2 linked regions of the Homo sapiens genome follow. The protein of the gene in region 1 interacts with the protein of each later gene in a pairwise test. Each region holds a gene or a part of one and is shown in the gene's direction. Other genes may lie near its edges.

What was found.
Region 2: the proteins of DMC1 (region 1) and FIRRM interact in a two-hybrid assay, tested with the Homo sapiens proteins (one study listed by BioGRID).

Annotation. Positions count from the first base shown.
Region 1 is NC_000022.11:38,540,369-38,556,328, reverse strand, and holds part of DMC1 (meiotic recombination protein DMC1/LIM15 homolog), read left to right. Parts: intron 1-919; coding exon 920-972; intron 973-3,621; coding exon 3,622-3,663; intron 3,664-6,331; coding exon 6,332-6,404; intron 6,405-15,960. UniProt on the Homo sapiens protein: Participates in meiotic recombination, specifically in homologous strand assimilation, which is required for the resolution of meiotic double-strand breaks.
Region 2 is NC_000001.11:169,800,993-169,816,952, forward strand, and holds part of FIRRM (FIGNL1-interacting regulator of recombination and mitosis), read left to right. Parts: intron 1-1,628; coding exon 1,629-1,733; intron 1,734-2,176; coding exon 2,177-2,317; intron 2,318-3,082; coding exon 3,083-3,248; coding exon of another isoform or gene 3,249-3,256; exon of another isoform or gene 3,257-3,394; intron 3,395-5,011; coding exon 5,012-5,096; intron 5,097-6,798; coding exon 6,799-6,937; intron 6,938-15,960. UniProt on the Homo sapiens protein: Regulates PLK1 kinase activity at kinetochores and promotes faithful chromosome segregation in prometaphase by bridging kinase and phosphatase activities.

The DNA of each region.
Region 1 (15,960 bases):
TGAGCCTCAGGAGTTTGAGACCAGCCTGGGCAACATAGCAAGACCCCAGCCATACAAAAAATAAAAAATTAGCCCTGTGTCAGGTGACAGAACAAGATTCTGTCTCAAAAAAGAAAAAGAAAAAACATTGAAAATTCAATTGACTATAGAAACATAGTTCCAGCACAATATTAAATACCCAATTAATAACTAAGATGGGCTGGGCATGGTGGCTTATGCCTGTAATCCCAGCACTTTGGGAAGCCAAGGCAGGCGGATCACCTGAGGTCAGGAGTTCGAGACCAACCTGGCCAATATGGTGAAACCCCATTTCTACTAAAAATACAAAAATTAGCCTGGCGTGGTGGCAGGCACCTGTAATCCCAGCTACTCGTGAGGCTGAGGCAGGAGAATCTCTTGAACCTGGTAGGCGGAGGCTGCAGTGAGCCAAGATCACGCCACTGCATTCCAGCCTGGGCGACAGAGCAAGACTCCATCTCGAAAAAAAAAAAATAATAATAATAATAATTAAGACGATCTGTAACTCCAATTCAATTCTAAAGACTAGTAAGACATAAGGCCTTGCTAACCCATTTACTATTTTTTTAAGTTTTTTCTTAAAATAATTTATTATTATTATTTTTTAAGCCTACAGCATGCAGTATTCCCAGGTTCCATTTACTATTGAAGTAAGAACGATAGGGCTTATCATTTGTTTTGCTGATCCACTTGCCCATACACAATAGAACCTGTGATCTAGCAAGTGGCATGCTATTTGTTCAGCCAAGAATTGCTGTTCATGTTCTGTAGATAGATAGGTAGATGATAGAATAGATAGATAGATACATAGATAGGAAGGATACTAATGATATGAATACTTTCTCCTCTCTTAATATTTCTATTTCTATTCCTGTTACTAATGCTTTCTTTCTATTTCCAGTAAGTTACTAGGAGGTGGAATTGAAAGTATGGCAATTACAGAAGCTTTTGGAGGTAGGTAGAACCTTAATATTTTGTTAAATGAAATATTATACACACACACATACACATCTATGTGTATACATACACATATAATTAAATAAACAACCAATAATAAATTGTAAGTATTTTGGAACTTACAAAATCTCAATTATCATAACATGAGATCATTCTGTACTGCAACGAAAATATATATGAACATTAACAGATGGGTCTTATCAACACTTTTCATCTTTTATTTGTGATTCCTATAGAAGATAATAGATTTTTTTTTTTTTTTTTGAGACGGAGTCTCGCTGTGTCACCCAGGTCCAGGCTGGAGTGCAGTGGCGCAATCTCGGCTTCCTGCAAGCTCTGCCTCCCGGGTTCACGCCATTCTCCTGCCTCAGCCTCCCGAGTAGCTGGGACTACAGGCGCCTGCCACCACTCCCAGCTAATTTTTTTGTATTTTTAGTGGAGACGGGGTTTCACCATGTTAGCCAGGATGGTCTTGATCTCCTGACCTCGGCCTTCCAAAGTGCTGGGATTACAGGCGTGAGCCACTGCGCCCAGCTGATAATAGATTTTTTTTCACTTATTTGTTCAAAAGGTAATTGAATAATGAGGCTGATTTTATTTCTAGGCAATTAATGTTCCATGAACATAGAGACTAGATTCCCTCTTCCCTGATTATATCCTCTATTTTTTTTTTTAAATAATAGATAAAGGGTCTCGCTATGTTGCCCAAGATGGTCTCGAACTCCTGGACTCAAGCAATCCTCCCACTTTGACCTCCCAAAGTATTGGGATTACAGGCATGAGCCACTGCACCCGTCCTATCCTCTATTTTTAAAAAGCAATTCATGCATAGCTACACTGTGTATCACATCTGGGAATTCCAGTATTTGCTGTCCTTGGAGAACTAAATCTGTTTTTTTTTTTTTTTTTTCTGTTGACTTGGGCACTAAATCTGGTTTTCATTATTTCTGTTGACTCAGTCTTAGTGGCTTACCTTCTTCTGTATTTATTGGTGTTTCTGAGCTTATTGTTTGATTTTAATCTATGAAAGTTCAATGGACCTGGATTGGTAGGTAGGAAAGTTTTCCTCCAGAACGAATTTGCTTTTGCTGGTAGCTAGGGGATGGCACCAGTTTAAGACTACTTCAGCTCCCCTTTAAGGACCTCAGTTCAGTAGGGGAACCCCAGGCTTTCTTTCCTGTGGTGGGGTCTTTATTTTATTTTCATTTATTTATTTATTTATTTAGAGATGGAGTCTTGCTCTGTCTCCCAGGCTGCAGTGCAGTGGTGCCATCTCGGCTCACTGCAACCTCTGCCTCCTAGGTTCAAGCAATTCTGCCTCAGCTTCCTGTGTAGCTGGGATTACAGGCAACTGCCACCACGCCTGGCTGATTTTTTTTTTTTTTTTTTTTTTTTTTGGAGATGGAGTCTCGCTCTGTTGCCCAGGCTGGAGTGCAGTGGCCTGATCTTGGCTCACTGCAACTTCTGCCTCCCAGGTTCAAGCAATTCTGCCTCAGCCTCCCAAGTAGCTGGGACTATAGGTGCACGCCACCACACCCAGCTAATTTTTTATTTTTTAGTAGAGATGGCATTTCACCATGTTGCCCAGGCTGGTCTCGAACTCCTGAGCTCATGCAGCCTGCCCGCCTCGGCCTCCCAAAGTGCTAGGATTACAGGCATGAGCCACCATGCCCAGCTAATTGTTGTATTTTTGGTAGAGATGGGGTTTCACCATGTTTGCCAGGCTGGTCTCGAACTCCTGACCTCAAGTGATCCATTCATCTCATCCTCCCAAAGTGCTGGGATTACAGGTGTGAGTCACCGCACTTTACCCCAGGTGGTAGGGTCTTAAACTTTCTTTTTTTTTTTTTTTTTTTGAGACGGAGTCTCGCTCTGTCACCCAGGCTGGAGTGCAGTGGCGCGATCTCGGCTCACTGCAAGCTCCGCCTCCCGAGTTCACACCATTCTGCTGCCTCAGCCTCCCGAGTAGCTGGGACTACAGGCGCCCACCACCACACCCAGCTAATTTTTTGTATTTTTAGTAGAGATGGGGTTACACAGTGTTAGCCAGGATGGTCTCAATCCCCTGACCTTGTGATCCACCCGCCTCAGCCTCCCAAAGTGCTGGGATTACAGGCATAAGCCACCGCGCCCGGCCTTAAACTTTCATTTATATGACTGTTACTAAGGAAAACTTGATTTAAATTAATTTATATTAAACAAATAAGGCCGGGCGTGGTGGCTCACACCTGTAATCCCAGCACTTTGGGAGGCTGAGGTGGGCGGATCACCTGAGTTCAGGAGTTTGAGACCAGCCTGGCCAATATGGTGAAACCCCATCTCTACTTAAAATACAAAAACTAGCCGGGCGTGGTGGCAGGCACCTGTAATCCCAGCTACTCAGGAGGCTGAGTCAGGAGAATCGCTTGAACCCGGGAGGTGAAGGTTGCAGTGAGCTGAGATCGTGCCACTGCACTCCAGCCTGAGTGAGAGCAAGACTCTGTCTCAAAAAAAAAATAAAAAATAACATCCGAGATACTTTATAAGTAAGATTTGCCAGTTGGAAAAGAAAAAGAAAACAGTAATATTCTAAAGCCATGTTTTATTCTTTATGAAAATATCTGGAAATTATGCATTTTTAAAATCATTTTTTTCTGTATTTCACAGAATTTCGTACTGGAAAAACCCAGCTTTCTCATACCCTCTGTGGTAAGGATATATAACAACAATAACAATAATAATCATGGCTATTACTTATCAAACATCTACTATGTGCCTGATACTCTAAATAATCTCATATCTGAACATACTTGCAAGGAAACTAAAACACAGGCAGATTAAGTAAACTGCCCGTGGTTATACAGCTGGTCTTTGAATGTGTGATCCTTGAGGTGATGTATGTGCTGCACTATGAACACCTGAGTAGAAATAGAGAGAAGTTGAATGGGTGTATGAATGTGTTGGTGAGGAGTCCACTGTCTCAGTTTTTCCCATTCCATCTTTTCTATATCTTTTTTAGAAGAGTGACACAAAATCTATTGAGTCCTAGAATCTTTCACTTTCCATGGCATAAAATTGGCCCTAAGAGAGACTTAAAAACAAAATTGTTTTAAACAAAATAACGAAAGATATCTCCTTTTCCACAAATACACTACTGTGCATTTCTTTGAGCTATGGAGAAGGAACTTGGCAAAGTGGTTAAGAAAGGAGTTCTGGCCGGGCCCGGTGGCTCACGCCTGTAATCCCAGCACTTTGGGAGGCCGAGGCGGGCGGATCACAAGGTCAGGAGATCCAGACCATCCTGGCTAACACGGTGAAACCCGGTCTCTACTAAAAATACAAAAAAATTAGCCGGGCATGGTGGCGGGCGCCTGTAGTCCCAGCTGCTGGGGAGGCTGAGGCAGGAGAATGGCGTGAACCCGGGAGGCGGAGCTTGCAGTGAGCCGATATCGCGCCACTGCACTCCAGCCTGGGCAACAGAGCAAGACTCGTCTCAAAAAAAAAAAAAAAAAAAAAAAGAAAGGAGTTCTGGAATCAAAATGCCGGACTTCAATCCTGGTTCTATCGTTAGTAGCTGTGTGACCTTGGGCAAGTTGCTCTACTTCTCTAATTTCCCCCACCAATAAAATTGAAATAATGACAGTGCCAAATGTTAGGATTGTTTTGAAAAGTAAATGAAATAATGTATGTACCTGGTATAAAGTAGCTCCTTAGTGTTAACTACTACTACATAAAAAGTAATTGCAGTCTAGCGTGGTGGCTCACACCTGTAATCCCAGCACTTTGGGAGGCCAAGGCAGGAGGATCTCCTGAAGTCAGGAGTTTGAGACCAGCCTGGTAAACATGGTGAAACCCTGTCTCTACTAAAAAATACAAAAGTTAGCTGGGCCTGGTTGAACATGCCTGTAATCCCAGCTACTGGGGAGGCTGAGGTCAGAGAATCACTTGAACCCGGGAGGCAGAGGTTGCCGTGGGCCGAGATCGTGCCACTGTACTCCAGCCTGGGCGACAAAGTGAGACCTGTCTCGAAAAAAAAAGTAAATGCATTTTTAAAATTTGACATACATTAATTTAAAGGTAACATATTAGTTATATAGCATAAATTATATTTGTGACTTTTTTTTTTTGAGACGGAGTCTCGCTGTGTCACCCAGGTTAGAGTGCAGTGGCGCGATCTCAGCTCACTGCAACCTCCGCCTCCCAGGTTCAAGCGATTCTCCTGCCTCAGTCTCCTGAGTAGCTGGGATTACAGGCACTCACGACCATGCCCGGCTAATTTTTGTTTTTTGTATTTTCAGTAGAGATGGGGTTTCACCATGTTGATGAGGCTGGTCTCAAACTCCTGACCTCATGATCCGCCCACTCGGCCTATTTGTGACTATTTCTTTCTTTTTTTTCTTTTTTCTTTCTTTCTTTCTTTCTTTCTTTTTTTTTTTTTTTTTTTGAGATGGAGTCTTGATCTATCACCCAGGCTGGACTGCAGTGGCACGATCTCAGCTCACTGCAACCTCCGCCTCCCAGGTTCAAGCAATTCTCCTGCCTCAGCCTCCAGAGTAGCTGGGATTACAGGCATGCACCACCACACCCAGCTAATTTTTGTATTTTTAGTAGAGACAGGGTTTTACCATGTTGGTCATGCTGGTCTTGAACCCTTGACCTCAAATGATCCACCCACCTTGGCCTCCCAAAGTGCTGGGATTACAGGCATGAGCCACCATGCCCGGCCATATTTGTGACTATTTCTTGTAGAAAGAAAGTTAGTAGGTTGGGCGCGGTGGCTCAAGCCTGTAATCCCAGCACTTTGGGAGGCCGAGGTGGGCAGATCACGAGGTCAGGAGATCAAGACCATCCTGGCCAACATGGTGAAACCCCATCTCTACTAAAAGTATAAAAATTAGCTGGGTGTGGCAGTGCCTGCCTGTAGTCCCAGCTACTTGGGAGGCTGAGGCAGAAGAATTGCTTGAACCCGGGAGGCGGAGATTGCAGTGAGCTGAGATTGCGCCACTGCACTCCAACCTGACGACAGAGCTAGACTCGTCTCAAAAAAAAAAAAAAAAGAAAAGAAAAGAAAAAGAAAGAAAATTAGTAATATTTAAATTTTATTTCCATTCTTTGGGAGAACTAACTTTCACGAATATCTTCCATTGTGAAAGATAGTGAAATTATTTGTTGAATAACAACTATGCTGGCAGAATACTTATAATTTCACACTGGTTAAGTAATATGAAAATATAACATGTTGTTTAGAAACGAAAGGATCATGACTCTTTGCAAAATGTACTAAAGAGTTGCAACAGCAGATTCCATGTGTATTTATATAGTCATGTGTACAAAGTTTATTCACTCCTATTAATATAAATTTTTAATTGCTTCCTAGTGACAGCTCAACTTCCAGGAGCTGGTGGCTACCCAGGAGGAAAGATTATCTTCATTGATACAGAAAATACTTTGTAACCTTTTTATTTAAAGTTGCTAACATAATAGTGTGATATAGGAATGTTACCACTGAAGAGTTTGTCTGAGATATACAATCTTTGTAGTCATTCCATAAACCAGTAGTAATGAGACAAACCAAAGGGAAAACAATTACTGTTTAAGTTCTCCAATCACTTTGTATTTAATGAGGTTTCACTTCTTCATATGGGTTTATGAGACAAAACAAATACATGAGAGGAAATTATATCATCATTTTTAATCCTCTTACTTCTCTAAAGATGTTGCTTAATAGTTAGAAAAAAGATTTTTTTTTTTTTGAGACGGAATCTCCCTGTTGCCCAGGCTGGAGTCCAGTGGGGCAATCTCGGCTCACTGCAACCTCCATCTCTTGGGTTCAATCAATTCTCCTGCCTCAGCCTACCGAGTAGCTGGGATTACAGGTGTGTGCCACCACACCTGGCTAATTTTTTTGTATTTTTAGTAGAGACAGGGTTTTGACATGTTGACCAGGCTGTTCTGGAACTCCTGACCTCAGGTGATCCACCTGCCTCAGCCTCCCACAGTGCTAGGATTACAGGGGTGAGCGACTGCGCCTGGCTGAAAGATTATTGACTCACTGAAAGTCATGGTCCCAAATGAAGGGAACGGTATGAAGAGGGTGAAAGTTAATAAGGAAAACAGGCAGAACCTGTTTGGGTAACACAACGAATTGCAGTTTAATTAAAGTGTAAGGTATTCCAGGATATGGGCTAGAAAGATGATTGGGATCTTAGACATGAAAGGCTTTGAAACAAGATAGTGGGTGTAAACTGGATACTTTAGCAATATTCTAGGCAAGTAATGAGAACTTGATCTAGGTTGGAACTGGTAAGAATAAAAAGAAAAGGAAAAGAAGTATTAGGAAAATTGATAGGACTTGATGGCTATATTTGGTAGACAAAGGAAAGACAGGTTTGAGAAACCGCTCAGGTTTTTTGTCTAGATACTAGGAGAATAGTTATGTGATGCTAACAATAGAACTGGAAAGATCATGCTTCAGAGAAAAAGAGAAAAGGTGATGTTTCATTTTAATGTACTAATTTTACTTTTTTTTTTTTGAGACAGTGTCTTTCTCCATCACCCAGGCTGGAATGCAGTGGTGCAGTCTCAACTCACTGCAACCTCAGCTTCCCAAGTAGCTAAGTTTACAAATGTACACCACCACACCTGGCTAATTTTTGTATTTTTAATACAGATGGGGTTTCGCCATGTTGGCCAGGCTGGTTTTGAACTCCTGACCTCAAGTGATCCACCCACCTCAGCCTCCCAAAGTGTTGGAATTATAGGCGTGAGCCATCACGCCTGGCCTAATTTTTTTCTTCTTTTGAGACAGGTTCTTGCTCTGTTGCCCAGGCTGGAGTGCAGTGGCCCAATTACACTCACTGCAGACTCGAACTCCCAGGGTCAAGTGATCCTCCCACTTCAGCCTTCTGAGTAGCTGGAACTACAGGCACATACCACCACGCCTGGCTAATTTTTTTTATCTTTTGTAGAGACCAGGTTTCACCACGTTGCCCAGGCTGATCTCCAACTCCTGGGCTCAAGCGATCTGCCTGCCTTGGCCTCCCAAAGGACTGGGATTACAGGCATGAGCCATTGCACCCAGCCATCATTTTAATGTATTGAATATGATGTACATGAGGATATCCAGATGGCACTGGGAAATATTGAATTCAGCTTGAGAAAGGGGTAGGCCCAGAAATATGGACGAATTAACCAAGGGGGAAAGAGAACTTATAGAGAGAGAAGAGAGGAGAATTGAGAACATAACTTTGAGGTATGTTTATATTTAGGAAGAGGACTAAAATGAGAAACCCAGAGACAGAGGAAGTAGAAGGAAATCTGGTTGTAAAAGTCAAGCAAAAGGAAAGTTTCAAGACGATGAGTTGTCAGCAATGTTACACACACACGGATTTTGAGGATACAGCCTGAGAAAGATCATTATAAGTTCAAAATTAGGAGTTCAAGCGAACATTTGCCATAGGGTGAGGTGATAGAAGCTTTATGTAAACAAACAACAAGGGAGGGAGGCAGTATGAAATTGACCAATGAAAGGAAGAAGGCTAGGCACCGTGGCTCACGCCTGTAATCCCAGCACTTTGGGAGGCTGAGGCGGGTGGATTACCTGAGGTCAGGAGTTCGAGACCAGCCTGACCAACATGGAGAAACCCTGTCTCTACTAAAAATACAAAATTAGCCGGGCGTGGCGGCACATGCCTGTATTTCCAGCTACTCAGGAGGCTTAGGCAGGAGAATCGCTTGAACTGGGAGGCGGAGGTTGCGGTGAGCCGAGATCGTGCCATTGCACTCCAGCCTGGGCAACAAGAGGGAAACTCCGTCTCAAAAAAAAAAACAAAAACAAATAGGAAGAAAAAATATACTAGTTTGAGGAGGTATTCAGAGGAAATTCTTTTTAATAACAAAGAAGACCTATGCACATTTGTAAGGCTGTTCACAGTGAAGCCCCAGCCTGCCTCTCCAAGCTCAGTACTCACCATTGCCACTATTAGAGGCAAAGAGATGAATCTGTTTTAGTCCATCCCATTGCCTGTAAACATACTTTGTTATCAAAATTTGCACATATGTCTAGTCTCACTCCAGTGATCCCAGCACTTTGGGAGGCCAAGGCAGGAAGATCACTTGAGGCCAGGAGTTCAAGACCAGCCTGGGCAACATAGTGTCTCTACGAAATAAATTTTAAATTAGCCAGGTGTGGTTGCTATAAATCCCAGCTACTTGGAAGGCTGAGGCAGGAGGCTTATTTGAGGCCAGGAGTTCATGATTAGCCTGGGCAACATAGCAAGACTCTGTCTCTACCAAAAGAAAAAAAATCTAAAAACATTGTACATCAGCAGTTATTTAGATTTAACTATAAAGATTTTTGTTTTCTTTGTTCATTATGGTTTCTTGCATCCCAGATGTTATTTTTTCCTGTATTTTTGTTTTGCTGTAATACTTATTTCTTTCAGAAATGTAATACAGGTGGTAAACTTTGAACCTTAGTATGTCTGAAAGTGCCTTTATTTTGCTCTCACTCTTGGCTGTTAATTTGTCTGGTCACAGAGAACTTTGCATGGTATATTTCTATCTTCTTGGGTATTTGCTCCTTCCATCCCCATCTCACAGTCTTTCTGAATCATACAAATCATTTAAGGCTCTCATTTCAAGGCCTGCTTTTTCTAATCTTCCCTAATTACTCAATTTAGAAAATCTTGTCCTTCTTGACCTATTATAGAATTTACTATCTAAAATACTCACTTAGAAAACAAAACAGAGAACTGTTTGCAGAAGTCCCTTTTCAGAAATGCCAGGCATAAGAAGTCTCTGAAAGAGCCTTTTAACTTGGGGAAGGAGGGTGAAATGTCGTACAGGGCTTTAACAAGGGTGCTCAGCTGGAGTTCAGCTGGTTTCAGAAACAATTGATTAAGGATGATTCTTATCTCAGAGAGGGAAGAATTGTTCTTGCAGAGTAGCAGCCACTGTTTGGGCAATTTGGAGTTTTTTTTTTTCGAGATGGAGTTTCACTCTTGTTGCCCAGGCTGGAGTGCAATGGTGCGATCTCGGCTCACTACAACCTCCATCTCCCAGGTTCAAGCGATTCTCCTCCTCAGCCTCCCGAGTAGCTGCGATTACAGGTGCATGCCACCACACCCGGCTAATTTTGTATTTTTAGTAGAGACAGGGTTTCTCCATGTTGGTCGGGCTGGTCTCGAACTCCCGACCTCAGGTGATCCACCCACCTTGGCCTCCCAAAGTGCTGGGATTACAGGCGTGAGCCACGATGCCCGGCCTGCAATTTGGATTTTACTAAGAACAATAGGAATACTTAGGAGCTAAGTCATATGCAAGAGAGAGTGGAGAAGAACAGCTGGGTGGGGGTGCAGGGCACTGTGGCAAGGGCCACATTGGAGTGTTCTCATTCTTTCCGTGTCTCATACTTATACTGCTGTCTCTTGATAGTTTTCTTTTTATATGTTTATATTTTGCCTCCTTAATTATGTTTTAAATTTACCTAGGGCATAGGTTGTCTTAGGACTCCTTATATCCTCCATAATGCTTTGCCTTGGTAATTGATTAATATGGTAATTAATTCCATATGGTAATTGGTTAATAAATATTTATAATTGATCTGAACTTCCCTTCAGCATAAGCCCAAGTTTTTTCATTTTAAATTGTTTTGGCTGGCCGCTGTGGCTCACACCTGTAATCCTAGCACTTTGGGAGGCCGACGCGGGCGGATCACGAGGTCAGGAAATCGAGACCAACCTGGCTAACACGGTGAAACCCTGTCTCTACTAAAAATACAAAAAATTAGCCAGGCGCAGTGGTGGGCACCTGTAGTCCCAGCTACTCGGGAGGCTGAGGCAGGAGATGGTGTGAACCCGCGAGGCGGAGCTTGCAGTGAGCCGAGATAGCGCCACTGCAGTCCGGCCTGGGCGACAGAGCGAGACTCCATCTCAAAAAAAAAAAATTGTTTTGTTTTGTTTTTGGGACAGGGTCTCGCTCTGTCGCCTAGGCTGGAGTGCAATGACGTGATCATGGATCACTGCTGCCTCAACATCCAGGACTCAAGTGATCCTCCCACCTCAGCTTCTCAAGTAACTGGGACTACAGGTGCGTGCCACCATGCCCAGCTAATTTTTGTATTTTTTTGGTAGAGATAGGGTCTCACCATGTTGCCCAGGCTGGTCTCCAACTCCTGAGCTCTAGTGATCCTCCCACCTGGGCCTCCCAAAGTGCTGGGATTACAGATATAAGCCACCATGCCTGGTTTTGTTATTCCCTGTCTTTTGTATAAAAGCCATATTAACTGGGGTGAGATGATATTTCATTGTAGTTTTGATTTGCATTTCTCTGATGATCAGTGACATTGAGCACCTTTTCATATAGCTATTTGCCATTTGTATGTCTTCTGTGAACCCAGAGAATCTGAGACAGGTCTGAGTTAGTTTAGAGAGTTTATTTTGCTGCCGGGCGCAGTGGCTCATGCCTGTAATCCCAGCACTTTGGGAGGCCAAGGTGGGCAGATCACAAGGTCAGGAGATTGAGACCATCCTGGCCAACATGGTGAAACCCCGTCTCTACTAAAATACAAAAAAAAAAAAAATTAGCCGGGCATGGTGGCACGTGCCTGTAGTCCCAGCTACTCAGGAGGCTGAGGCAGGGGAATTGCTTGATTCCAGGAGGTGGAGGTTGCAGTGAGCTGAGATCGCGCCACTGCACTCCAGCCTGGGGACAGAGCAAGACTCTGTCTCAAAAAAAAAAAAAAGAAAGTTTATTTTGCCAAGATTGGGGATACGCCCGTGACACAGCCTCAGGAAGTCCTGACGACGTGTGCCCAAGGTGGTTGGGGCACAGCTTGGTTCTACACATTTTGGGAGACATGAGACATCTATCAGTATATGTAAGAAGAACATTGGTCCAGTCTGGAAAGGCGGGACAACCTGAAGCAAAGACAGGAAGACTAAGCAAAGCAAGGAGTGGGCTTCCAGGTCACAGATAGGTGAGACACAAATGGTTGCATTCTTTTGAGTTTCTGATTATCCTTTCCAAAGGAGGCAATCAGATATGCATCTATCTCAGTGAGCAGAGGAGTGACTTTGAATAGAATGAAAGGCAGGTTTGCCATAAGCAGTTTCCAGTTTGAGTTTTCCTTAGTGATTTTGGAGGCCCAAGATATTTTCCTTTCACACTTCTTTTGAGAAATGTCTTTTCAGATATTTTGCCCATTTTTAAATAAGATTATTAGATTTTTTTCCTATAGAGTAGTTTGAACTTTTTATATATTCTGGTTATTAATCCCTTGTCAGATGGATAGTTTGCAAATATTTTCTCAGCAAGGCAATTTTACTTCTATAAAAGGGTGTGACTCACTGATGGAGCAATGGCGAGAGCACATCTGAACAAGGGAGGGGAAGGGGGTTTTATTCCTGACTCAAGTAGCCCCTACTGCTGTGTCATTCCCCTATTGGCTAGGGTTGGACTGCACAGTCTAAGCTAATTCCGACTGGCTATTTTAAAGAGAGCAGGGTTATGAGTCGGAGTGGTGGAGTGAGTAGTTTGGCAGGAAGGATGGTTAGGAACAGGTGACTAAAGGTGACTCAGGTCAGAGCAGGTGACCAGGGGTGACTTAGGACAGAGCAATTGACCAGGGGAGACTCAGCATGGAGTAGATGACCAGGGGAACAGATGTAAACTACTGATTAGAACTGATGGAAAAGGTTGTTTACTGAAACTAGGGGCAAGAAAGCAAGAAGAAGGAGGAAGTTAACCTTTAAAATGGAGAACAAAGAACAGGGGAGCTGAACATACTGATACATTGGTTCCTTGGAGAGGATCTCAAAACTCATTGTACTTAACAATTTACAGGCAGCTGGGCACTATGGCTCACACCTGTAATCCCAGCACTTTGGGAGGCCGAGGTGGGTGGATCACGAGGTCAGGAGATCAAGACCATCCTGGCTAACATGGTGAAACCCCATCTCTACTAAAAATACAAAAAATTAGCCGGGCATGGTGGCGGGCACCTGTAGTCGCAGCTACTCAGGTGGCTGAGGCAGGAGAATGGCGTGAACCTGGGAGGTGGAGCTTGCAGTGAGCCGAGATCATGCCATTGCACTCCAGCCTGGGTGACAGAGCGAGACTCCGTCTCAAAAAAAAAAAAAAAAACAATTTACAGGCTAAAACCTTTGAAGAGGAATTTATTATATCCTACAGTTGACTGTGCTTGTGTGGTATTACTCAAGAAATCTTTACCCAGTCCAGTGTTCTACAGAGTTTCCCCAATGCTTCCTTTTAGTAGTTTCATAGTTTGAGGTCTTAGATTTAAGTCTTTAATCCATTTTTATTTGATTTTTGTATATGGTGAGAGATAGGGGTCTAATTTCATTCTTCTGCTTATGGATATCCCATTTTCCCAGCACCATTTACTGAAGAGACCGTCCTTTCTCCAATGTATGTTATTGGCACCTTTGTCGAAAATGAGTTCACTGTAGGTGTGTGGATTTGTTTCTGAGTTTTATATTCTGTTCCATTGGTCTATGCATCTGTTTTTATGCCCATACCGTGCTGTTTTGGATACTATAGCTCTATAGTATAATTTGAAGTCAGGTTATGTGGTTCCTTTAGTTTCGTTCTTTTTGCTCAAGATAGCTTTGGCTATTCTGGGTCTTTTGTGGTTCCATATAAATTTTAGGGTTGTTTTTCTATTTCTCTGAAGAATGTCATTGGTATTTTGATAGGAATTGCATTGATTCTGTAGATTGCTGTGTTTAGTATGGACATTTTAACAGTACTGATTCTTCCAACTCATGAACATGCAATATCTTTCTGTTTTTTGTGTGTCCTCTTCAATGTATTTCATCAATGTTTTATAGTTTTCATTGTAGAGATCCTTCACTTCTTTGGTTAAGTTAATTTCTAGGTCTTTAATTTTATTTGTAGCTATTGTAAATGGGATTAATTTTTGAATTTCTTTTTCAGATTGTTCCCTGTCGGTATTTAGAAATGCTGCTGATTTTTGTATGTTGATTTTGTATCCTGCAACTTTACTGAATTTGTTTATCAGTTCTAATAGCTTTTTGGTGGAGTCTGGGTTTTTCCAAACATAAGATCTTATTATCAGCAAACAAGGATAATTTGACTTCCTCCTTTTCAATCTGGATGACCTTTATTTATTTCTCTTGTCTGATTGCTCTAGCTAGGACTTTGAGAATTATGTTGAATAACAGTGGTGAAAGTGGGCATACTTGTTCCAGATCTTAGAGGAAAGACTTTCAGTTTTTCCCCATCTAGTATGATACTAGCTGTGGGTCTGTTGTGTATGGTTTTTATGTTGGGTTATGTTCCTTCTATACCCAATTTTTTGAGGGTTTTTTTTTTATCATAAATGAACGTTGAATTTTATCAAATGCTTTTTTCAGCATCAATTGAAATGATCATATGTTTTTTGTCCGTTCTGTTGATATATCACATTGATTTGTATATGTTGAACCATCCTTGCATCCCTGAGACGAATCCTACTTGGTCATGATGAATGATCTGTTTAATGTATTGTTGAATTTGGTTTGCTAGTATTTTGTTGAGGATTTAAGCCCAAGTTTTACACCCGCGGTCACATTGTTCCCAGACCAAACTGAGGATCAGGCTGCTTATTCTTATGGCCCAATAATGAGATGCAAATGAACTGGGAAAGGAGGGAGTTTTTGTTTCCGTAACCGGTTACAGGGAGAAGACCTGGAAAATAACACCAGACCAACTCAAAATTACAAAGTCTTCCAGAACTTATATACCTTCTCAGCTATATGTTTATTGTAAGTGTGCATTCATCTAACGACATAAGTCACTTTGAGAGGCCGAGGTGGGTGGAACACTTGAAGTCAGGAGTTCAAGACCATCCTGGCCAACATGGCGAAACCTTGTCTCTACTAAAAATACAAAAATTAGCTGGGCATGGTGGCACACGCCTGTAGTCCCAGCTACTCAGGATGCTCAGGCAAGAGAATCACTTGAACCAGGGAGGCAGAGGTTGCAGTGAGCCGAGATTGTGCCACTGGACTCCAGCCTGAGCAACAGAGTGAGACTCCATCTCAAAAAAATAAAATAAAAATTTTTAAAAATATATAAGTGATTAACTTCTTTTGATCTATAACTAAGATCTGAGTCCTAAAGACATTCCTCTGGAGCCTCAGTAAATTTACTTAATCTAAATGGGTCCAGGTGCTGGGGTGATTACCCTTATCTTATCTCCTGCTAAATCATGGAGGTTTGGGGAGTTCCTTCAGACCCCCAATAACTTGTTTGTGGAGACCTAGGGAGTTTCTTCAGGCCCCCAGTAAAACTCGTTTAATCCTAAACAGGTACTGTTAAGAATTTCTTCATTATCTTGTCATGCTTCAAGGCCCAGGAAAGGCCTGGGCAAAACTCTTGGTGGCCTTTTGTTACATTCCAGCCTTTGTATAAGGGCACTTTCAGCTTTTAATATTTAACTTAACCACTCAGTCAGTGCTGAAACAGTTGTTATGGAGGCCTGCATTAGTAAGACCTGGCCTGCCACAACATAGTATCTGGGATTTGTAGAAACCGACATGATGAAAATGTTTTTATTGCCTCTTCCAATTCCCTGTCTAACTTGTCCACCAAAAACATCTACTGGGTATACTCAATAACAATGGAAGATTTTTGTGGCTGTCACCAAAGCTCTAACAACAAGAACATATCTAGTGCATTAGGATATAAATGGCTGGGAATTTAAATTAATTGCAAACATCACAAATAAGATTATAAATGGTCCTTGATTTACAGTTACTTATACTGGGATCAGTGTTATGTAAACACTATAAACAAAGTGAAATAAGGTTACAAACATGCATTTAATTTTACCTCATTTTACTTCAGACATATTGTTGGGATCACCAAAGACCTAAAAAAAATGTTTATTACTCCTTTATAGTTTATAGGTATAAGTGATTATTAGCTTCTTCCAGAATACTTTTGCAGGTGCACTTAGTTTGCTTCCCTATGAATTTGCTA
Region 2 (15,960 bases), on another chromosome or scaffold:
ATACATGTTATAAGGAATCTAGCCTCAGTCTTAGATGATTTATTATTAATTATGGCTCTCTTTTTCTAATATATCAAATATATTCAAAATAAAAATAAGGAGTAAGTAGATCTCATGTGAGACTATAATGGTGTTAGTGTGATCATTAGGCAGTTAAAAACTGTTACAGGCTGGGCACGGTGGCTCATGCCTGTAATCCCAGCTCTCTGAGAGGCTGAGGTGGGCAGATCATCTGAGGTCAGGAGTTCGAGACCACCCATGGTCAACATGATGAAACCTCGTCTCTACTAAAAGTACAAAAAATTAGCTGGACATGGTGGCAGGTGCCTGTAATCCCAGCTACTTGGGAGACTGAGACAGGAGAATTGCTTGAGCCTGGGAGGCGGAGGTTGCATTGAGTCAAGATCGTGCCATTGCACTCCAGCCTGGGCAATAAGAGCGATGCTCCGTCTCAAAAAAAAAAAAAAAAAAAAAAGAACTTATATTTTCAGATTGTGTGGTTCCTTTACTAACTGAATTTAAATTATTTGTAGTCAATTTTAAATGCTCTTGTATTTTAAAGCCACTGTACTCCAGCCTGGGTGACAGAGTGAAACCCTTAATTCAAAAAAAAAAAAAAAAAAAAGAAAAGCTGGAATATTGGCAAAATCAAGTAACTAAGAGAAAACATTAAATTCACAGAATACATTATTACATTTTAGATATATATGGTATATGTTTTCTCTGAAAAGCACAAGCATACCTTTTTTGTTTTAAATGGAGGGAACTAAAGATACTTTGGTGCCAAAATGAAACATTATTTGTAATTAATCTCTTATTGAAATGGGTTTCTAACTTTAGCTTTGAATCGTAATCTTTCAAATTTCTTGTACTCATAGTCACTTGATGATTCTCTATCTGAAATATTTCTTAGAATTTGTTCTTGACCACCAGAAAAAGATTCAACTGTTACATAGATGAAAATGGATGTTGAGTGTTAACAGGCCTATGGGAAACAGTATTTTCTTTAGCTACATTGTATTGTTGACTGTGTTGCTATTCTTATAATGTTTAGGTCATTTAAATTGTTAGAAAGATCCAAGTATTAAGATCTAGGGTGGCTAACTTTTCACAGACAAAAAGCTTGTTTGTAAGGTCATTTACTATACCCTTAATTCAGGAAGGTTAGCTTGAATTGGGTCAAAAGGAAACTGGTTAGAAAATAAGTGAGTAGTGAATAGGCGATTCAGTGCAAATTCCTTCCAGAAAATACCCTTGTAAATGACTGTATGAATGTGGATTCTTCAAGACAGTCAAATTTATTGTGCGAAAGTAATACTTTTATTTTTTGCATCTCTAAAACATGAACTTTGAGTGATTTTTTAAAAAAATTGATGCTATTAAATAGATTCAAACCATAGAAATGGAAAATAAATTTCTGTTTGGGGCTTTTGGGGGGATTATGTTGTAAAAATACCTTTTCTCTGTATTTTGTGCTTAATTAGGTACAATTGTTAAGCTAGATGATAGCCTGTGGATGTTACTAGTGCAAAATCAAATTATCGTATTGTGTTTTCTCTGTAAAGTTTTGTCTTGTCTTTTCTAGTGATTTCTCTTATTCCTGTTTATTACTTGATTTGTTTTTACAGACTGTGAAATTATTCGATGACATGATGTATGAATTAACCAGTCAAGCCAGAGGACTGTCAAGCCAAAATTTGGAAATCCAGACCACTCTAAGGAATATTTTACAAGTAAGTCAAATGTATTAGAAAGCAGGAGAGAGAGGGAGCTTAAAGAATGTCAAAATTTTTATACTGATACTGATTAGCTATGTATTCTTATGTAATGGCCTAATGTTGGAATTAAATTTATAGAATTAAAGACGTGAATATAGAAACATGAATTCTGAATAATAAACTCTTATAAGAAGAGAAGTCATCAAGCTAGCTGACCCTACCTGTATTTTCAAGGATATGTGTGGAACACCTGCCATGTGTTTTGAAGTTTGTGTTAGTATTCTAAATGGCTAGACAGTTGTTCCAGTATTTGTAGTTCTGATAGACTAAAGTTCTGTGAAAAGAGGAAGAGACTGTGTTTTGTTCATTGCTGTATTTGTAGCACCCAGCATGCTGACTAATACCTTTTCAGTGCACAAAAAATATATTCTAAGTGAAATTTCCTTCCTTATTCACAGACAATGGTGCAGCTCTTAGGAGCTCTCACAGGATGTGTTCAGCATATCTGTGCCACACAGGAATCCATCATTTTGGAAAATATTCAGAGTCTCCCCTCCTCAGTCCTTCATATAATTAAAAGCACATTTGTGCATTGTAAGGTGAGTAAAGGTCTAATTATACTTTGAATGGTATATAATCAATGTGCATAGGGGCTGAGTAAAATAATGTTTGTATAAGATTTTACATTTTAGTCTATATTATTGAAATAAACTTTTCCATAGAATAAAGAACATGTAAGTAAATAATTGTTGCAAAAAAAGTGGTTTTAAGGAAGTCATTAAAAGTGGCTTTTTGGGGTTTTTTAGTTTTATCTTATTTCCCCTCTATAAAGAAAGAAGTTTTAAGAATTTGTGTTGAGACAGACACAGGGATCCTGAAATAGTTATGTCATGTTGCATTGACCAATATTCAATTACCATTATGATTAGATGTCAGAACTTCCTTTTATAAAGGAAAGTTAATCCTTATTTAGTCCATCTCTACATGCCAGAGGTAGCCTTGAGGCACAAAAGCTTGCCTAGAATTTATGGGTCACAGACAGTTTTAATATTGCTATTTGTTGGGCGAATGAAAATCACTAGTTAATTAATACCTCTCTTTGCTGATAGGATGCTAAAAATGTCACGCACCTGGCCTAATGTTACCCTTTTTTAGTTCTGTATTTGCAAGATCATGGAAGTCAGAAATAATATTTTATACATGCTTGCATCTCTTGAAGCACACTATATTTAATGGATGTTCACTAAACAATGAATGAATATGTGATTCAGTAAATTTATGATCTCTAATAGTATGAATTAAAGTAAATTTGGCTCTTGAGCTTTGATTTGTTTTTTCTCTCATTTTTATTTATCCGTAATCAGAATAGTGAATCTGTGTATTCTGGGTGTTTACACCTAGTTTCAGACCTTCTCCAGGCTCTTTTCAAGGAGGCCTATTCTCTTCAAAAGCAGTTAATGGAACTGCTGGACATGGTTTGCATGGACCCTTTAGTAGATGACAATGATGATATTTTGAATATGGTAATAGGTGAGTGAAGAAAACTTTCTGCTTAGTATATGGTGACTATAAATCATGTATCAATTAAAATTGTCTCTAATGATTCATGTTATTTTCTTACTAATTATGCATTAAAATTGATTTAAATCTTACCAAATAAATTTTTAATCTTGAAATTTGGAATTTGTAAAATTTATTTTGGGTACCTTAACCTAGATTTGCGTATTTAGTTACTGTAATTTCTCCACAATGATTAACTTATATAACTTTATAATCTCTGAGGTTGTCCATATTCAGAGACAATAACTTTCACATTTTTTTAACCATAACTGATATTGAGATGCAGTTTATATTTCCTTCCAGAATACATATAAATACGTGCATATGTGTATGTAAATATGTCTATTCTCATATACATATTATAATGAAATAACTCATTTTACATGTGATGCACTTTATACTAGTTTATTTTTATTTTATTTTATTTTTTTGAGACAGAGTCTCACTGTGTAGCCCAGGCTGGAGTGCAGTGGCACAATCTCGGCTCACTGCAACCTCGCCTCCCGGACTCAAGCGATTCTCCTGCCTCAGCCTCATGAGTAGCTGGGATTATAGGCGTCCGCCACCACACCTGGCTAATTTTTGTATTTTTAGTAGAGACAGGGTTTCACCGTGTTGGCCAGGCTGGTCTTGAACTCCTGACCTCAGGTAATCCACCTGCCTCAGCCTCCCAAAGTGCTGGGATTACAGGCATGAGCCACCGTGCCCAGCCAATACTAGTTTATTTTTAAAGAATTGCTGGTCGTAACACACTTCATTGATTTTATCACTCATTAATGGATTATGAACAAGAGTTTGAAAAACAATATAAAGGCAAAGTTTGCATTCAAAACTTTGGTATAAAGAGAGTAAGTTGGTTTTGTGCAGTGTATCAGGCACCTGTTGCTCTGCAACACACCACCTCAAAATCTATTTATTCACTATTTATTTATTCATGATTCTGTGAGTCTGCAGTTTAGGGTGGGATGTCCTGAGACAACTTTCTCTGATCCACCTGGGGCACTAGCTCACCCATGTGACTTCAGTGACTTCATTCACATCTGGCTGTTGGCAGAGGCAGAAGTACTTGAGAAAGCCATGTGCATCATCCAGCAGGTTCACCCTATCTCAGATACCTGATGCCAGTGGTTTCAGGGTTTCTAAGAGTAGCAAAAGTGTGAGCAGGTCGCTGTGTGCTAGCACTTTTCAAGTTTCTGCTTGCCTTAATTTTATTATTGTCCCCCGGGCCACAGCAGGTCATAGCGTTTAGCCCAGAGTCATTGTAGAAAAGTGTGGATTCACAAAGGGCAGTCATTGTGGCCATTTTTATAAATAATCTACCACAGACTGAGTAAAAGCCTTGCATGAATACCATGGATATTAATTTGAATTCTTCCTTTTTAGATTTTCTTTCCTTAGCAATTTGTTTTGTCATTTTGGATTAGAATTATATCTGTAGAATATTTCAGTTATAATAGGGTACAACTTTTATTCCACTGAACATCTTTAGTTTTATTTAGGTCATCTGGTAGGTATAAACTTCAGAAGTTAATATTCAATATTTATAAAAACCATTAACAAGTGTGACACTTAAATAGTTTAAATAATTCTTTTGACACAACTGTTTCCAAGTTGTGTTACGTATTTTAATTCAATCAAATGTTGAAATTGTTCAGTAGATAGTTTTAATTATAGGAGAAACTCACCCCCATGACATTTGGATGTCTTAAAAGTTCTGTTATCTTTCTTTGCAGTTATTCATTCTTTATTGGATATCTGCTCTGTTATTTCCAGTATGGACCATGCATTTCATGCCAATACTTGGAAGTTTATAATTAAGTAAGTTTGTTTGTTATTTTTTACTTTTTAGAAAATGTTTTCCATATTCCCCAATCTTAATTATTCATGATTCTTTAGATTGCATTTAAAACATTTTGTGTGAATTTAATGTTCACTGACACTGCTGTCTGATAATCCAGATATTCTACATGTAGCTCTCAAGCCAAATTGGACTTCTTTACCCTGTGGCCTCTAAAATTAAAAAAAATGTTCTTCCTAGTTAGCTAGTACTTCAGAAATAATGGGCCATGGGCCAGACTAGAACTTAACCACTTTTCTTCTGCTACTGTTGTTTAACCAGCTATCAAGTATCCTATTTCTAGGATTAGATAAATTGATAACTATAATTAAAACTGAATATAATCTTTTCATTAGGTACTTTTAAGTTGTTCACACTTAATTCCATTTGTACAGTAATTTTAACTTTCTGAAACTGAAGCATTTTAAAGGGTCACCAGGGATAGTGCCTGTAGCATTCATCAGATTCTTAGGGGTGAGAGGAGATGTGGTTGAGATGTAAAAATGGTTAAGAATATCTACTTTATACACATACATAAAACATTAAAGGTCAGTGTATTTTCAGGTCTTAGGTACTTTTCTTGTACTACCAGGACATTAAGTTGCCATTCAGTGGTTAAGAGTGTTGCCTGGGAGCTGTATCACATGTGCTTAAATCCATTCTTGAAATCATTTACTCCTTCTGAGCCCTTGGGCTATTTGGTTAATTTCTCTGAACGTTAGTTTGCTCATCTGAAAATGGAAATAATAATAGCAACTTCTTGACAGGGTTATAGTGAGAATTGAGTTCATCACTGTGAAATGCTTAGAAATGTGCATGACACATAGTTAATACTCAAGGAATTAGCCACATCACTATCATCATCACTGATTATCTTCCACTCTTACCCTCTTCCAGTTCATTTTCTGCCCAGCAGAATGATCTTTTAAAAAGTAAATCAGATCATGTTACTCTATTGCTTGAAGTCTATCCCATTTGATTAAGAATAACAACCTAATCCTCTGTGGATGCTGCCTCCTTCACCAGCCTGTCTCATGCTGCTCTCCCTACTCTTAGTTCCTCAAACATACCAAACTCTCCTGTCCCAGAGTCTTTTCGTGGTTTTTCCATCTGCCTAGGATGCTTCTCTCTCCTATTTTGTGTACCTTGCTAACTCCTGCTTACTGTCTTTCAGTTCTCAGCTTAAGAGTTATATCTTCATGATAACATTCTTTGATATCCTTACCCTAAGATTAAGTTAGATTGATATCCTTACCCTAAGAATAAGTTAGATTAGGTCTCTCTATTGTAGCACCTTAGACTCTGTCATTTGACAAATCACAGCCCTAATTAATTATTCTTAAAATTATTTAACATTCTCTCTCATGCTAGACCACAAGTTTCATGCAGGTAAGGCGGAGATTGTGTCCATTTGTTTGACCCCTTTGTCTCCAGGGCCTGGTAGAATGCCTCATACATAGTAAGAATTCAATTAATATTTTACACAGAGAAAAAATTAGCAACTTATTTAAACAAATATAACTGCTTCAGAGGTAAACTGGGCACATCTTAGTTATATTATGTGATATATGATGCTTTTTGATTGTTTTTTTAAATGTTCTACAAGGTAGATATTGTTAGAGGTCCTAAGTTACTTGATGTGTTACTTGTGGTGATTGTATTCTTTTCTTTTTATTCATTTAGGCAGAGCCTTAAGCACCAGTCCATAATAAAAAGCCAGTTGAAACACAAAGATATAATTACTAGCTTGTGTGAAGACATTCTTTTCTCCTTCCATTCTTGTTTACAGTTAGCTGAGCAGATGACACAGTCAGATGCACAGGTAAAATTTGGGCTAATAGCATTTTAAACAGCAACTCTTATTTTCTTTGGCAGTTAGTAAATCTCATTTGAATGTCTGGGTCAGTCTATTTAAGAGGATTTTAATTTATTTCATTTGGGTGTTTTTTTTTGATCTGTGGGATTATTTATATCCCATAATTACTTTTCACCCAGAGCATTGTATTAGATTCCTAACTGCTGTCATTGCCTCTGGGGTCTGCCTGGCTCCCTCTTTGCTTGGTAACTGGTTGGTCACAGCATTCTTCTCAGAATCCTTTCATTCTTTTCTGCATGAGAACAAAAATTCTTTTGTTCATATTTGTATAAGATCTGATATAGCTGCAATCAATCTTGCATTTTTTCTTCACCAACGCATTGCGACCTTTAGGGATACAAGTATGTTTGTGCATGTATATGTATGTATCAGTCTTTTAAATTTGATATAGTCATACATTTGTTTTTATTTTGAAAAGTTAGAGTGTTGAATTGGTATCCCATTTATGAAACATTATATTCTAAAAATTTGTAGTACGATTATTGGGAATTATAACTCATTTTCCTGTAACACTGTTATACATAGTACCTTTTGCTTTCAGACTAGCCCTCAATTTTATTTAACTATAGTAGTCCTAAATTATAAGATTAATAGTACTCAGGACCTAACAGTTATATGTCATTTGTTTTTTTTTTTTTTGAGATGGCGTCTCACTCTGTCACCCAAGCTGGAGTGCAGTGGTATGACCTTGGCTCACTGCAGCCTCTGCCTCACGGGTTCAAGGGATCGTTCTGCCTTAGCCTCCTGAGTAGCTGGGATTATAGGCGCCTGCCACCACGCCTGGCTAATTTTTTTAGTAGAGACGGGGTTTCGCCATGTTGGCCAGGCTGGTCTCGAACTCCTGACCTCAGGTGGTCCACCCGCCTTGGCCTCCCAAAGTGCTGGGATTACAGGTGTGAGCCACCGCGCCCAGCCTATATGTAATAATTTTAATGGGACCATGAATTGAATATTTCTTCCTTGAATAGCAATGACATAGCCCCTTCTATTGTACATCTGCAAGCTGATACAGGGAATTCCTTTGTACCTGCGCTCTTCCCTGCCAGTCAGCTATGGGGGTGAAAGTGTAGGGGTTCATCCAAGTCCTAAAACTGGTAGCAACTCCTAGGGCAGGGCTGATCTGGAAGGACAGACCCTAGGGGAGGGTGGAACTTTAAAAAGAAGTTCTGAAGGTAGTAAGAAGGAAATGAGGAGTAGTGTTAGGAAGGGGCTAACTTTTTTCTTCTTGCTTCTCTTCTTTATCTCACCTGCCCCTCCCCTTGTATCCCTTCTTCCTTTTTCCCTTTCCTTTTTTGTCCTCACTTCATTCGTGCATCCTTTCTGATTCCTCTTACCTTGCTAAAAGGAGAAGTTTGTTTGGGTATCCTATATCAATGGCAGGAAGGTTGTTTTCTTCTTTACCTTTATCCTATAGATTCATATTCTCAACACCAACCTCCTCCTTTTTCAGTTTCCTTCTTGCTTCTCTTGACACCACAGAGTTTGCAGCTAGTACTTGGAGAGGAAAATTAAACAGAGATACTTGGACCAAGAGTAAGATGAAGAAAGTCTAAACAACAGTATAGTCTATAGTGGCAAGAGAGAGTATGGGGGCTGCTTAGCCAGGGTGGCTGTACATAAAGTATATCTTCAGTTTATATAAACTGCTTATAGATGGAAATCAGAAAATTTAAATTCTCTTAACTGTCCAAGAAAATTCTCATTTTTTCAAATTTGGGACTGATAAATGTGACCAGTTCTGCTTACTGTCCATTGCCTGAAATGGAGCTTTGAGGTGGACTGTATAATTTCTTCAATCTTAACTCCAAATTCTGATCAGCGACGCCCTCTGCTGTTCACTATTAATATTTATTTACCAATCAAAGTAAAGTATTGAAGTTTTCCTGGCAGTTTTCACTTTGTGTTTTAGTCCATTTAGGCTGCTATAACAAAATCCCTTAAACTGGGTAAGGGATTATAAATATTAGAAATTTATCTCTCACAGTTCTGGAAGCTGGGAAGCCCAATATCAAGGCACCAGTAGATTTGGTGTCTAACGAGGGTGTGCCGTCTGCTTCAAAAATGGCCCCTTGTTGCTGCATCCTCACTTAGTGCAAGGGGCAAGACAGCTCCCTTCAACCTCTTTTATAAGGGCACTTATGTCATTCATGAGGGCAGAGCCCTCATGACTTAATCACTTCCCCAAAGGCCCCACCTCTTAATAGTATCACATTGGGTGTTAGGTGTCTGGGAGGACACCAATCTTCAAGCCATATCATCTCACTTGGAAAAAAGTCAAAATAAAACCAGTAGATTTAATTAATATTACACTATTTATAGAAGCATGTGATGTATCATTCCTTGTATTAATTTCCTGGGGTTGCCGTAACAAGTTACCACAAACTAGGTGGCTTAAAACAATAGAATTTTATTCTCTCACATTTCTAGAGGCAGAAGTTCACAGTGTGTCAATAGGGCCATGTTCTCTGGAAGGCTTTAGGGGAGAATATATTTCATATCTTTCTCTTAGCTTCTCGGTGTCACTGGCAATCCTTAGCTTACTTTGGCTTTCTGTGTCTTCACATCATCTTTTTATAAGAACACCAGTGATAGTGATTAAGGGCATACCTTACTTTAATATGACCTCATCTTAACTAATTATGTCTTCAATAACCCTATTTCCAAATAAGGCCACATTCTGAAGTATTGGGAGTTAGAACTTAAAGCTTTTTGGGAGGGACACAGTTCAACCCATAACAACCCCTAAAATCGATATTTATTCTCAATTAAGTCTTGAAATTGGTTTCAAAAAGAGAATATTCTATTAGAGTTTTTAATGTATAGTTTTAACATATAGTTCTTTAGCCCCCAATTTTTTTTTTTTTTTTTTTTTTTTTTTTTTTTTTTTGAGACGGAGTCTCGCTCTGTCGCCCAGGCCGGACTGCGGACTGCAGTGGCGCAATCTCGGCTCACTGCAAGCTCCGCTTCCCGGGTTCACGCCATTCCCCTGCCTCAGCCTCCCGAGTAGCTGGGACTACAGGCGCCTGCCACCGCGCCCGGCTAATTTTTTTGTATTTTTAGTAGAGACGGGGTTTCACCTTGTTAGCCAGGATGGTCTCGATCTCCTGACCTCATGATCCACCCGCCTCGGCCTCCCAAAGTGCTGGGATTACAGGCGTGAGCCACCGCGCCCGGCCTGCCCCCAATTATTTAGTTTTTCTATAAACAGGGAAATTTATTTGTGTGGCCCTTAGAACTAATTTAATTTCCACTCTAATTCCTACTTATGTTTATATAATGCTTTTAGAAATTTGTATTATTCAGAAAATAAACATATACTATTGTATCTGTTGCCTACACTTAGATTTTATTGCCTGCTATATTTAAATTTTATTAGTATTTTAATTGTTTTATTAAAGAAAGAATGTGCCTGTAATCTCAGCACTTTTGAGAGGCCAAGGCAGAAGGATTGCTTGAGCCCAGGAGTTTGAGACCAGACTGAGCAACACAGGGAGACCCCCATCTCTACAAAAAATAAAAAAATTCTCCAGGCCTCATGGCACATACCTGTAGTTCTAGTTACTTGGGAGACTGGGGTGGGAGGATGCATTGAGCCCAGGAGATTGAGGCTGCAGTGAGCCATGATCAGGCCACTGTACTCCAGCTTGGACAACAGAGTGAGAGCTTGTCTAGATAGATAGATAGATAGATAATCTAAATAGATAATAGACAGATTATCTAAATAGATAATAGACAGATTATCTAAATAGATAATAGACAGATTATCTAAATAGATAATAGACAGATTATCTAAATAGATAATAGACAGATTATCTAAATAGATAATAGACAGATTATCTATCTAAATAGATAATAGATTATCTAAATAGATAATAGATAGATAGATTAGATAGATAGATAGATAGATAGAGCTTGGACAACAGAGTGAGAGCCTGTCTAGATAGATAGAAACAAAGAAAGAAAGAAAGAATGGTGCTCATATTTTAAAGCATTGAAAAATGGTCTTCCTTGCTTATATTACCCACACCTTCTTTGTTGGCATTAAGATGCAAACTTTGTTTTAAACAGTTGAGTAAATCAAAGATGGGACTGTTAAGTTATTTGTGTTATTTACCTGCTTTTTGAAAATGTAAAAATAAAACTCTAGGTTTAATTAGTAGTATGCTATTTAGTAATGAAGTAAAGCTAGAGGCTTCGAACAAATCTTGTGTAATTTCCTCTTGAATGAGAGAGAAAATTTAAAGTAAGCAAACAAATAAGTTGTGTGTCACCACTCATTCAGTCATTTAACAAGTATTTCCAGAGTACTTATTCTGTGCCAGGAAATGTTGTAGGTGCCCTCAACAACTTAGAGTCTAGCCTGAGACACAAGTAAGTAGGTAATTATTATAGAATGGTATGATCTTTGGAGGACTGGGTATTGGCTGGCTCATGGGAGTACAAGATAGGTACCCAGTGATGAAGTCAGGAAAGGTTTCTTATGGTGATATGATGACGTCTATGCTGATTATAAGGTCAGTGTAGAATAAACTTTGTGCTTTTAAATTTGCATAGCACTGTATTAGAGAGTTCATCTTCAAAATAATCGAAAAGGCTGAGTGTGGTGACCCATGGCTGTAATCCCAGCACTTTGGGAGGCCGAGGTGGGCAGATTGCTTGAGCTAGGAGTTCGAGACCAGGCTGGCCAACATGGTGAAACCCCGTCTCTACTAAAAATACAAAAATTAGCCAGGAGTGATGGTGCGCACCTGTAATGCCAGCTACTTGGGAGGCTGAGGCAGGAGGATCACTTGAACCCAGGAGGTGGAGGTTGAAGTAAGCCGAGGTCATGCCACTGCACTCCAGCCTGGGCAACAGAGTGAGACTCCATCTCAAAAAAAAAAAAAATGATCAAAGAAAGGTGAATTTTCATCTACCCTATTTCTGCTGAGGAAAATGGACTATTTTCAAATATTTTTAATAAGGGTCAAAATGAGGGATCATATTCCATTAGCGAACCATCCAACTCTGTTTTGATTTGGTTTAATGAAGATTTTGCTATATTGGAAAAGAAACATAGCCAATCAACATATAAGTTAAGATATGTTATTTTCATATGAAATAATTCACAAATTAAAGACAGTAATTTATTTGACTTAATTTTATGGCACTATTTAAAGCTGTTTGGATTATAGTGTGTATTATAAACTTGGGTGGTGGAACAACCAATATTTATTGAGCTAAGTTGCTTAAACGTCAGACACTGTTTAAATCTCACAATAATCCTGTATTAGCCTCATTATAGATGAGAAAACTGGGCCACAGAAAGGTTTAATAACTTTCCCCAGATCATATAGTAGTTGTAGTAGGACCAGGACTTAAATCCAGGCAGATGAATCTATAGCCCTCCCTGCATATTATTGGCACTACCCACTGTTTTATCAATTTACAAATGTAATACGTAATCAGAAAACTCACACATATTACACAAGTATCTAACATGGAAGGTTAAATCCTATTTTCGTCTACTAGAAAGAATCACAGGAAAGGTTTTGATTTATTTTGGGGGTGGTTTAACACATTTAAAAATAATGATAGGATTGTGTTATCATTAGAGTCAATAGACAAATCTCTGAAAACAGAACGTTTTATTTGGGAGGAAGTAATTGCACTTTGGAGCATTCATGCAGACCAATTGTTCGGTATGTCCACAGAAAAAGGAGAAGGTTAGCGGTCTTATAAAAAAGGAGACATATTACATATAGCTCTTCAAGAAAGTCCATTGGCACTAGATTTGGGGAGCTGTCAAGCTCTGATTGGTGAGTGATGGCAGTGGGTAACACTGGTCTTAGAGTTGCACTAGTTTCTTTCAGTAGCCCTTAGATAAAACTGGTTTCCGGTTACAGCAGGCAGTTTCAGCAGCCAGGCCTACAGAGAATTACATTTTGGGAGAAATGTTTTGTGCCCTGAGTGCTTTTCCCCTAGGCCTGTTGACTCTGTTTTAGTTGGGTATGACAAGAATGACTCAATTTTTGTAATTAATTTTACATTATACAAGTTGTTTACAATTTGATTTTTTACTTAACAGTTTATCCTTAGGGCTTTCTGTGTCCATGAAGATATATGTACCTGATTCTTATGTGATTATACTATAAATTTATAGTTGACCCTTGAACAATGCAGGTCTGAACTGCACAGGTCAACTTATGCAGACTTTTTTAAATTGTCATTTATTACCATAAAATAATACAAATCTATTATCAAAGGTTAAAATTTATCAAAACTTAGCACACAGAGACCATACATGGTACCATGCAGTTGAGAGAAATGTAAACAAAGGTAAATATGCAGTATTAAATCATAACTGCATAAAATTAACTGTGGTACATATTGTAGTACTATTAGGTTGTGCCAAAGTAATTGCAGTTTTTGCCATTATTTTCTATATATTCAGTATACAATAATTTCATAGCCACTTCCTGTTGCTGTTACTGTGAAAAGTGTTGCAAGGCCATGTGATACTAACCATCCCCACGTGAGCAGTTTGTCTCTCCAGTAAGTAAATTGCTTTTCTCAGTAAAAAGTTATTGCTTGAGGTGCCTCCATATTTTTTCATCATCTTTAATGCAATATGGAAACCCATAAGAAGTGCCACTAGTGATCCTGGAAGTGCTCCCGAGAATTCCTTGATACATATTGTAAATTGAGGTCTGCAACTGCAATTACCTGCCATTTCAGATAGATGATTCTTCTTGTAAATAGACAGTGTTAATACATATACAAAATATGTTAATCAGCTCTTTTTATTAGTAAGGCTTATAGTCAGTGGTAGGCTATTAGTAGTTAAGTTTTGGGAGACTCAAAAGTTATCCTCGGATTTTAGACCACATGGGGGTTGGCACCCCTAGACCCCATGTTGTTCAAAGGTCAACTGTATTTAGGTGTTCTCCACATGATGCACACTTGGTACATTTCAGTTTTCACTATATAAAAAAAGTTTTGTTTTTTTTTTTGTAAAGCGAAAGCAAGTTTATTAAGAAAGTAAAGGAATAAGGCCAGGCGCGGTGGCTCACGCCTGTAATCCCAGCACTTTGGGAGGCAGAGGTGGGTAGATCATGAGGTCAGGAGTTGGAGACCAGCCTGGCCAACGTGGTAAAACCCCATCTCTACTAAAAATACAAAAATTAGCTGGGCACAGTGGTGGGTGCCTGTAATCCCAGCTACTCCGGAGGCTGAGGCAGGAGAATCTCTTGAACCCAGGAGGTGGAGGTTGCAGTGAGCCGAGATCGCGCCACTGCACTCCAGCCTGGGTGACAGAGCAAGACTCTGTCTCAAAAAAAAAAAAAAGAAAAGAATAAAGAATGGTTACTCCATAGGTGGAGCAACCCCTAAGTCTCCTGGTTGGCCACTTTTATGGCCATTTCCTGATTTATATGCTAAACAAGGGGTAGATTATTCCCTTTCTGGGAAAGGGGTGGGCAATTCCCAGAACTAAGGGTTTCTCCCCTTTGTAGATCATATAGGGTAACTTCTGGTTGTTGCCAGGGTATTTGTAAACTGTGATGGAACTGATGGGAGTATCTTTTATCATGCTAATGCATTATAATTAGTGTATAGTGAGCAGTGAGGACAACCAGAAGTCACTTTTGTCACCATCTTAGATTTGGTGGGTTTTGGCCAGCTTCTCTACTGCATGCTGTTTTATCAGCAAGGTCTTTGTGACCTGTCTTGTGCTGACCTCCTATCTCATCCTGTGACTTAGGATGCCTAACCTGGAAATGCAGTCCTGTAGGTCTTGTCCTCATTTTACTCAGCCCCTTTTCAAGATGGAGTCCTCTGGTTAAAACACCTCTGACATATTTCCCTCCTCCCTTTTATAAGGGAACCCTTAATCCTAAGGGTTGTAGAGGGACAAATAGACATCTTCTATAACTTCTTCGGGCTGAATAGGGATGATGATATTCCTGCCTAACTATTGGGGTCTCTTATATTTGGGGTAGAGAGGAGATCAGTCAGAAAGTGTCAGTATGATGAGGGCCATTCATAACTCTCAATTCCAAAAAAAGATGATATCTGGAAGATTAGTAAGTGTTCGATTTAATAAAACATTCAGTAATTCATATTCCTACACAGAATTATCTTGTATTCCTACACAGAGAACAACAGCAGTATATTCTACAACAGTAAAGCAAAATAAGTAAAATTATCCCAAGTAAACTAAATAAGAAGGCTTTCCATGAACTGGGCAACTGTTGGAAACCAAGCTGATTCCAGTATGGGCCCAGAATTAGAATACTGATCCAGATTTTCACATTACCATCTCTCTTGTTTCTTCTGAGCAGCAGCCAGAGATCACTGGTTGGTTCACAGGAATAAGCAGGGTTAGTCTAAATTGCAGAAAAAACCCTCAAGAACAACTGATGAGAAAAACACTCAAAAACACCTAATAACAAGTGTACCATAGTTTTTGAAACATAATTTTTTTCTCTCTCCAGTCTCCCATTTTTACTAAAGGCAAATCATGATAAGACTGATTTGCTTTTTTATACTTGGTCTGATTATCTGTATAAAGTACAGCAAGAATAATTATTTTTCACATGGGCTTTTTAAAATTGGCTTTGATGGAACTCTGTTTCATAAGGAAACTCAGATAAGACTTTTTAAAATATGAATTGGGTAAATTCCTTTCCTCTTGAGGTCCCAAGATAACTTGGGGCTCCTGGGCCTGTCAGAAAGTGACATTCTTTATTTACCACAGGTAAGGAACCCTGTACAGGGACTGCATAAACAAGGTATGAGGCAAGTTTTCCCAAGGGCCTTTATTGGCTTTATAAGTCAAGTTTGATTCCTTAAAGGAAAGCACACTATTCCAGCCAAAGCCTTGGTAAAATAACCAGTTTCTCCAGTTGTGTCCTGTTGCAAAAGAAAACATTCGTATTGCACTTATGCAAATAACTATATTGCTGTAAGTTAAGAATATTCATAAATAG